Regions from separate parts of the Homo sapiens genome. Here region 1 is linked to region 2. Evidence: fine-mapped expression QTL. A gene starts in region 2. The other region holds a variant in brackets. All regions are shown on one strand. Distances are between the middles of the regions.

Region 1 (4,390 bases), 810 kb before region 2:
ATTCTAGATGGATAAAACTGTGTGTATGTTCACAGAGACACAAATAACTCATGGCTCTTTAAAGGAACAATTAATGGTGGCCCAGTAGGAACAGATCACAAGGTAATATGAGGATGCTGTGAAGCGGAAAGGTGGGAAGGAGGGCTCGCAAAGTAGGCAAGTTCAAAATCACAATCACTCAAACATTTATTGAGTACCTACCATGTACCAAGTACTGAATATACATATATGCAAGGTCTATATTTAGAATCAACTACATCAAATAAAGGTAGAAAAGCACAGAAGCACTTGTAAAATATACTATAGTGTTCACAAATGAATAATCAACAGTATAAAATGGGTGCCAAGATTGTTGGTGTGCACTAATACACGGATGATTGAGTTACATACGTGTGTGTGTGTGTGTGTGTGTGTGTAGTTAATACAATAATAGATGTAGTATCCAATGCAGAGAAGGTAATGAGTGATTCCAAATTACTATTTACTTAACAAACCTAGGATATAATGGTCCATGCTGGGAACCCACCAAGACAGACACAGATAAAATTTTTAAAAGGTTGGGAACAAAGTGAAGGGATGGTAAACAAAATAAAAATCATGTTGTAAAAATAGCAGTGGACAAAAATTAAAGAAGATTAACCAGGAAAAAGATCAAAGGATCTTTAAGTTTCTCTTAATTCCAAGATTCCAAAGCTTAACAACTGAGCAAAAATTTAAAAGCTTATTCTGGTGTTTCAAAGGTTTTATTCAAGTCATCACTGTCACCAATAAAAAGTACTGTGTGCCCATTATGATGAATAAGATGCAGTGCTAGACAGTACAAATGGGAAGAGGGATACAAAACTGAATCTGCCAAAGGATTCAAAAATGACTAAGATCCTTCCCTATTTAATAAATGGTGCTGGGAAAACTGGCTAGCCATATGTAGAAAGCTGAAACTGGATCCCTTCCTTACACCTTATACGAAAATTAATTCAAGATGGATTAAAGACTTACATGTTAGACCTAAAACCATAAAAACCCTAGAAGAAAACCTAGGCATTACCATTCAGGACATAGGCATGGGCAAGGACTTCATGTCCAAAACACCAAAAGCAATGGCAACAAAAGCCAAAATTGACAAATGGGATCTAATTAAACTAAAGAGCTTCTGTACAGCAAAAGAAACTACCATCAGAGTGAACAGGCAACCTACAAAATGGGAGAAAATTTTCACAACCTAGTCATCTGACAAAGGGCTAATATCCAGAATCTACAATGAACTCAAACAAATTTACAAGAAAAAAACAAACAACCCCATCAAAAAGTGGGCAAAGGACATGAACAGACACTTCTCAAAAGAAGACATTTTTGCAGCCAAAAAACACATGAAAAAATGCTCACCATCACTGGCCATCAGAGAAATGCAAATCAGAACCACAATGAGATACCATCTCACACCAGTTAGAAAGGCAACCATTAAAAAGTCAGGAAACAACAGGTGCTGGAGAGGATGTGGAGAAATAGGAACACTTTTACACTGTTGGTGGGACTGTAAACTAGTTCAACCATTGTGGAAGTCAGTGTGGCGATTCCTCAGGGATCTAGAACTAGAAATACCATTTGACCCAGCCATCCCATTACTGGGTATATACCCAAAGGACTATAAATCATGCTGCTATAAAGACACATGCACACGTATGTTTATTGCGGCACTATTCACAATAGCAAAGACTTGGAACCAACCGAAATGTCCAACAATGATAGACTGGATTAAGAAAATGTGGCACATATACACCATAGAATACTATGCGGCCATAAAAAATGATAAGTTCATGTCCTTTGTAGGGACATGGATGAAATTGGAAATCATCATTCTCAGTAAACTATCACAAGGACAAAAAAACCAAACACCGCATGTTCTCACTCATAGGTGGGAACTGAACAATGAGAACACATGGACACAGGAAGGGGAACATCACACTCTGGTGACTGTTGTGGGGTGGGGGGAGGGGGGAGGGATAGCATTAGGAGATATACCTAATGCTAAATGACGAGTTAATGGGTGCGGCACACCAGCATGGCACATGTATACATATGTAACTAACCTGCACATTGTGCACATGTACCCTAAAACTTAAAGTATAATAATAATAAAATTTTTTTTAAAAATGACTAAGATCCAAATATTTGCCTTTAAAAGATCTCTAGCCTACTAAAGAACAGATATATACAGCAAGGTTAAAAAGTAATTAATGCCTGGCCGGGCGTGGTGGCTCACGCCTGTAATCCCAGCACTTTGGGAGGCTGAGGCAGGCGGATCACAAGGTCAGGAGATCGAGACCATCCTGGCTAACACATGAAACCCCGTCTCTACTAAAAAAAAATACAAAAAAAAAAAAAAA[T/AT]TAGCCAGGCGTGGTGGTGGGCGCCTGTAGTCCCAGCTACTCAGGAGGCTGAGGCAGGAGTATGGCATGAACCCAGGAGGCGGAGCTTGCAGTGAGCCGAGATCGTGCCACTGCACTCCAGCCTGGGCGACAGAGCAAGGCTCCATCTCAAAAAAATAAAAAAAGTAATTAATGCCTAAAGATCAATAAAGGTAATTACAAGCAGGTTTAGGAGAAAACTACAGTTTAGTCTCTGGTTTCATCATTAACCTATCCTTAGAAATTAAAGAACTAGTAAAAGAAGAAAAAGGGACGGGGTAAGCAATTGAAAATTCTAAACCGACATAACCTTATTGTTAGAGAGATGTTGATACAAATTTGTTAATAGTCCTGACTCTGGTATCAGACTGCCTGAGGTTAAATTCTAGTTACACTGCTTCCGAGTTATATAAGCTTGAGCAGCTCAATTTAACTCTGAGCCTCAGACTTCTCTTTGGTAAAGACAGATGAACAAGAACCTACCAGTTCTAACCTCCCTCTTTGAAATTAATTCCTTAAAACAGAATAATTATACAAAAACTAGAGAGTTAGAAATGACCTAGGATAACTGGCTATGATAAAACCAAAATGAAATCAAAGGAATAAATATGAATGTGGAAGGCTTATCATACAGATTAAGTTTCAAAACTCAGGAATAGATATTATCCATATTCTACAAGAAAATGGACAATAGGGCTCAAAGAACTTGTTTAAGGACACTGCTCAAAAGTTATAAACTCTGGAGTCAACCTAAATCCAAAGCTCATTTTTTTAAATTCTAGACTGTATTACCTTCCAAAATCTGTAACTGGACTTCTAACAACTATTTTTAACACATACTAGAGCACACACAAGGATGGGCACAGGCACAACAGGGACAGGGAAGGGAGATATTTCAGTATTTATGAAGAGGAAAGTCGCCAGTCAGATAAAACAGAAAAGAGGAAGGCATGCCAGACTTTAACCCTTTGGTTGTTGGATCATAGACGCCGTGTGGGAAAGGGAAGAGTGATCATCGGGGTGGTTCAAGAGCAACTAGGACAAAAAGAAGTAGGAACAGGGCCTCGGGAGCAGTAATTCAAAACTGTAACAATCATTATGGCTTCCGCAGTACATACTACCTGGCTGTTGAGCATACAAGTATGCATTTCTAAAAAGGTTATGGTTAAAATCACAGGAATCTGGCTTCCAAATTTCAATCAAGGCACATTGGCAAGGACTCATTACCAACTGACTCCTAGCACTGCCACCAGCAACATCACCCAGGGGGAAAAAAAAAAAAAGTAAAGACCCAACAAAAGCCTCCCCAGTAGTCGCTTTATGTTGCAGCTGACTCAGATATCAATAGAACTCACTGCCTTTGATGTAGCCAGTCTAGCTCAAATGCTTCAGTCTCCTTTTTGCCCTTTCTCAGAAACAAGAAGAGGGTAGCAGGAAAGGAAAGCAAAGAAAAAGGGCAGAGGGAAAAGCAGCACACACAAAAAGATCCAGTGTTCACTACAGATCTCCGAAAGAAACCAGCCCTGGCATGTTTCAAAAAACCACCATCCATATATTCTACCATTTTGTGCAATTTAGTCCTGGCTGCAATTTAATCTAGTGATCTCATAACAGTGTGGATCTGTAAGACCCAGAAAGAAACACTACAGCAACTGAAATCAGTCAGGCTTGATAAATCAGATCATTGGGGAGAAGAAAGTCAAGCCTAAATTATTCTTAGGCTCAATGTGAAAGAAGCATCCTTTTAATTTGTCAAACGGCAACGATCTCTACATAATTCCTACATTAAATTTATAAAATGTTCATCCCTTGTTTGTTCAAATATTTTTTTCTTTCCCATGCTCCCTTCTTTTTAGAACTCCAATTACATGCATATTATAGACCTTTTAAAGACTGTCCCACATTTTCCAGGTTCTGTTCATTTTGTTTCAATCTCCTTTTCTCTCTGTTCTTCAAATTCAGTAATTCTTACTGAACTACAGTGCGAT
Region 2 (4,390 bases):
AACTTGGTGTTGAAATTTGAGATGGTACAATGGGAGTGGGTGTGGTTTAGGGAGAGTTGTATCTGCCCTGCATAGATTTGGGGGCCTGATGCAGTGGTCCAGACAGACCTGAAATCTGATTCCAGTGGGACTTCTGGGAAAGTGGCTAAACCTCTTAGCCTGTTCCCACCTATAAAAATGAGGAGACAGAAACCTACCAAATAAGATTCCTTCAAGCATTTAAGTGATGCAGCACTCAATCAATACCAGCTTCTGTGTGTTCACGCTAATTTCTATTATCCATGGACTAGAGAAGATAGGATGGGGGTTTGATGGATGCAGAGGAGAGGGAGGGGGGTCACAAAGGAATGATTACCGGAAGGTGATAAGAGCTATATCTGTACACCATGGCTAAGCTGTGACAAGAAAGCAGAGAGGTGTAAATGCCAGGGTGGGAGGTGAGAAGCAAGGAGATTGGGGGGAAAGCCAGGGCCAGAAATGAAACGTCCCTGTCCTGTGTGTCATGCTCCTGGAAGCTGGGCCTCCAGCTGGGTATGACAGCCAGTTTTTCATGTGAGCTTCCCCTTCTAGGATGAGGATCCACAGAGCTAGCAACCTTGCTGAGCTAGATACTAAGCAAGAGTCCTAGAAGCAGGTCCCATTATCAAGCCAGATGGGAGTAGGTTCTGGTACGGCCACTCTGTTCCGTGTTCCAGAGGTATCCAGAGTCCAAGGGGTGGTCTGCACCCCCGCTCCTCCATCACTCTCTCCTTTGTGTACTTGTCTCTCCAATGAGATGGTTAACTCCCTTGGGAGCAAGGAATTATCTGTCGCCCCTCTTCTTGTGTCTAGTGTAGTGCTCTGAACAATGGGTTTCAGTTAATTAAGCAAACATAAATGTATTCTTCTGGAGCACAGTGTTTTCCTCTGCTCATTATATGATACCACTTATCCAGAAGTTCTTTCCAAGAAAGTCCAGACAGCTCCTGGGGAGAACAAAGTGCCAGGTGTGAGAGGGCAGGTCCTACAGAATTGTTGCTTCCGGCCACAGAGTACTTATGCTAAAACATGTAAAAGTATTAAAATTAGGGCAGTGTGGTTATTACCATTTTACAGTTGAAGAAAGTGAGGTTCAGCCGGGTCACAGCTTGTACATGGACTCCTGGGTGCAGTGCAGTCCTGGGTGCAGTGCTCTTTCCACTTTCTTGACCCAGAGGTCTGCTTCCTGCCCATAAGCCAGGCCCTCCAGCTGGATGCCCGTTCCTCAGAAGCGGCCCTTTGTCCCACCCTCCATCATTCTGCATTCCCATTCTGAGCACCTACTGTGTGCCAGAACATTTCCAGACTGTGATGCTGGCTGTGAGAGGGCAGAGAGCAAGGTGAACACGGGTCAGATTCCCCCAAAGGGCGGAGGTGATGGGGATTAGTTTATGGAAGTCCTTTGGTGCCTAGCACTTGGCTGGACACTGTAAAAATGCCTCTGTTAGCCTGGGAAACCTAGCGACATCCAGTCTCTTGGAAAGAAAAAAAAAAAAAGCCAGGCATGAAGGCGTGTGCCTGTGGTCCCAGCTTCTGGGGAGGCTGAGGCTTGAGCCCAGCCCTGGAGGTTGAGTTTGCAGTGAGCCGTGATCGCGCCACCGCACTCCAACCTGCGCGATACTGCCAGATCCTGTCTCAGAAAAAAAAAAAAAAAAAAAAAAAAAAGCCTGTTACCCGGGAGGAGAGCTCCTCGCCCGACCTCTACCCTCATGAAGAGAGGCTCAGAGGGCTGAAGTGCCTATTTGGCCGAAAGCCGTGGCAGAGTGGCAAGGCAGGGCCAGGGGAAGCGGCTCCGCCGCCGGGGCCGGGCCCCTGTTTGGCCGGTGCCCGGTCCTTAGCCTGAAGGTGGCGGGCTTCCGCCAGAAGCCCCTGGCGGAAGCGGTGCCCGCGTGCGGGCCAGAGTGTGGGTGTGCAGGTCTCTGGGCGGCCCAAAGGGGGTGCCCCTGCCTGGTAACCTAGCGGGAGGGTGGGGACGGCGGGGAGGGCGGCGGGCGCGGGGCACGGCTCCGCTGCTCAGGGCAGGCTCCGCCCCCAGGGGCGCGGATTTAAAAGGATCGAAGGCAGCCCCGGAGCCCAGCGGCCGGGAAGCGCGCCCGAACGAAGCCGCGGCCCGGGCACAGCCATGGCCCGGCGGGCGGGGGGCGCTCGGATGTTCGGCAGCCTCCTGCTCTTCGCCCTGCTCGCTGCCGGCGTCGCCCCGCTCAGCTGGGATCTCCCGGAGCCCCGCAGCCGAGCCAGCAAGATCCGAGTGCACTCGCGAGGCAACCTCTGGGCCACCGGTAAGTCTTTGGGGACGGAGCAAGCAAGCGCCCCTCATCCAGTTCAGACCCCATTTCCTTCTCAACCCTCTGGCCGCTCCTCAGCCACGGACACTAGTGTCGGAGCAGGTGGAAAACCCTGGGGCTCATCTAATTTAATAGATATGTACTTGAGACCCGGACAGGTCAGTGACTTGGCTAAGGTCGCGCAGCCAGTTTAAGACAGGGCTGGGCTAGATCCTAAATCCCACTGCCAGCCGGTGCCCCTTACCTTAGGCGAGACTTAACCGAATCTTCTAACCGCTGGTGTGTTTTTGCTGCACCTCCACTTTCCAGGCGCCTCTTCACTCTCCACTTCCTACCCTGCCCTTTTTCGTCCCTTGTCCAAGCAGCCCACACAACTAGCAGAGTTTCTCCCTGGCCCTGGACCATCCCACCTTCCTGCCAGCTGTGCCATCCTCTCTACCTGTTCAGGAAAAGCTGAGGGAGCAGGCTTTGCCACCACCCAGACACCTTTGTGGCTCCTTGGTGAGGTGGAAGCACCAAGAGGAGGAAGGTTAAGTGTCTTCCCGCTACAAGAACGGAAACGTGGGAGAGATGAGGAACTTTTCCTCTGAGGTAGGATCCTGGCTGCTTGACTTCCTTGTGCCTGGACACCTCCTTTCCAGGTCACTTCATGGGCAAGAAGAGTCTGGAGCCTTCCAGCCCATCCCCATTGGGGACAGCTCCCCACACCTCCCTGAGGGACCAGCGACTGCAGCTGAGTCATGATCTGCTCGGAATCCTCCTGCTAAAGAAGGCTCTGGGCGTGAGCCTCAGCCGCCCCGCACCCCAAATCCAGGTGAGCCGGGCCCCTGCTCCAATGTCAGGAGGGCCCAGCTGGGGCCATCCCCGGATCCTGCATGGGAGGAATTACCACCCAGTACTGTATTAGGGTGTGACTGTCTGACTAGGACATTATGGGTGTGGACCCCAGAAAGCCAGGTTTCCAGGCTTTTCCCTCTTGAGGCAGAGCTCAAAGGAGGAACAGTCCAAAGAAAGGAAGCTGACCTTCCCAGTAGACCCCATGGGGCAAGAAGTAGGGAAAGAAGTTCCCCTGACTCATCACCCAGTCTAAAGTAACAGACTGGGATCATCAGCCTTTTGGAGCAGGACCTTTCTCCCCCAGTCTACACAGTCTTGTCCCACCCATGCTGTTCCCTGCTGCATTAGTCAAGTCCACCTTTGCTGTGTCCTGTGTATGCTTGTGGCCGGAATGGGACCCTGAGGCCCAGAGAGGGAAAGAGAAGTCAGCAGCCAAGACAGAGTCTGGACCTTGTTCACCTGGACTGGAGCTCTTCCCATTCTCTCATCTGCCTCAGTATCCAGTGGTAGGGTTTAGCAACTTCAGTACATTTGACGTTCTAGGCTGAATCACTGTTTCTTGTGAGGGCTGACGTGTGCATCATGGGATGTTTGGCAGCATCCCTGGTCTCTACATACTAGATGCCAGTAGCATCTTTCCCCCCCATCAAGTTGTGACAACTGAAAAGACCTCCAGACATCACCAGATGTCTGCTGGGGGAGAGGGCCCCAAATCATTATTGGTTGTCAGTCACTGATCTATGGGATTCAAGACTCCAAAGCTGGAGCCAAGCTAGCCTCAAGGTATAGCCCCGCTGAGTGGCAACTCCTTCATTCCCTGCTCCTGGTGCTGTCCTTACTGCACACCACCCTCCCTGGTCCTGCTGCTGTGTGCAGAAGGCAGTGTGATGTGGTAGAATGTGGGTTTTGACTACAACGTGCTGGGCTCATAACCTAGCTACTTAGTAGCTGTATGACCTTAGAAATGTCCCTTAACTTCTCTAAAGCCTCAATATTCTTCACCCATAAAATGAAGATAATAAGGCCCATCTCCCATTAAATGAGACCATTTATGTCAAATGCTCAGCATGGTGCCTGGCTCATAGACAGCCCTTAGTAGATGCGAGCTCTTATCAGTCTGTGAGCTCCCTGGCGGCACCTGTTGTAGACTCGCCTTCATATCCCCCAGTGTGCCTAGCATATAGTGTGTGCATTTTGAAGGGAGAGGCATTCCCTAGAAAAGGTCCAACCCAGCCTCAACCAACATCCCT

Direction of the effects. Positions count from the first base shown, and alleles are read on the strand shown. Sizes are in standard deviations (SD) of each study's normalised expression.
In carriers of allele AT in region 1, the expression in naive CD4 T cells of the gene that starts at base 2,094 in region 2 tends to be lower than with T alone (moderate effect, 0.65 SD a copy in Schmiedel 2018).

The links.
Region 1: its variant is fine-mapped to the expression of NMB in naive CD4 T cells (Schmiedel 2018, PIP 0.90).

The regions. Positions count from the first base shown.
Region 1 is chr15:85,463,102-85,467,491 of GRCh38, reverse strand. The region is part of intron 1 of AKAP13 (A-kinase anchoring protein 13); the gene reads right to left. Among named protein-coding and RNA genes, the nearest start is that of AKAP13, 85 kb to the right of the region's middle. The variant T/AT (reference allele first, on the strand shown) is at 2,385.
Region 2 is chr15:84,655,903-84,660,292 of GRCh38, reverse strand. It overlaps NMB (neuromedin B), which reads left to right and starts at 2,094. Exons shown (of 3, transcript NM_021077.4): 1 at 2,094-2,297; 2 at 2,945-3,117. The coding sequence starts at 2,141. RefSeq lists a silencer at 1,979-2,138.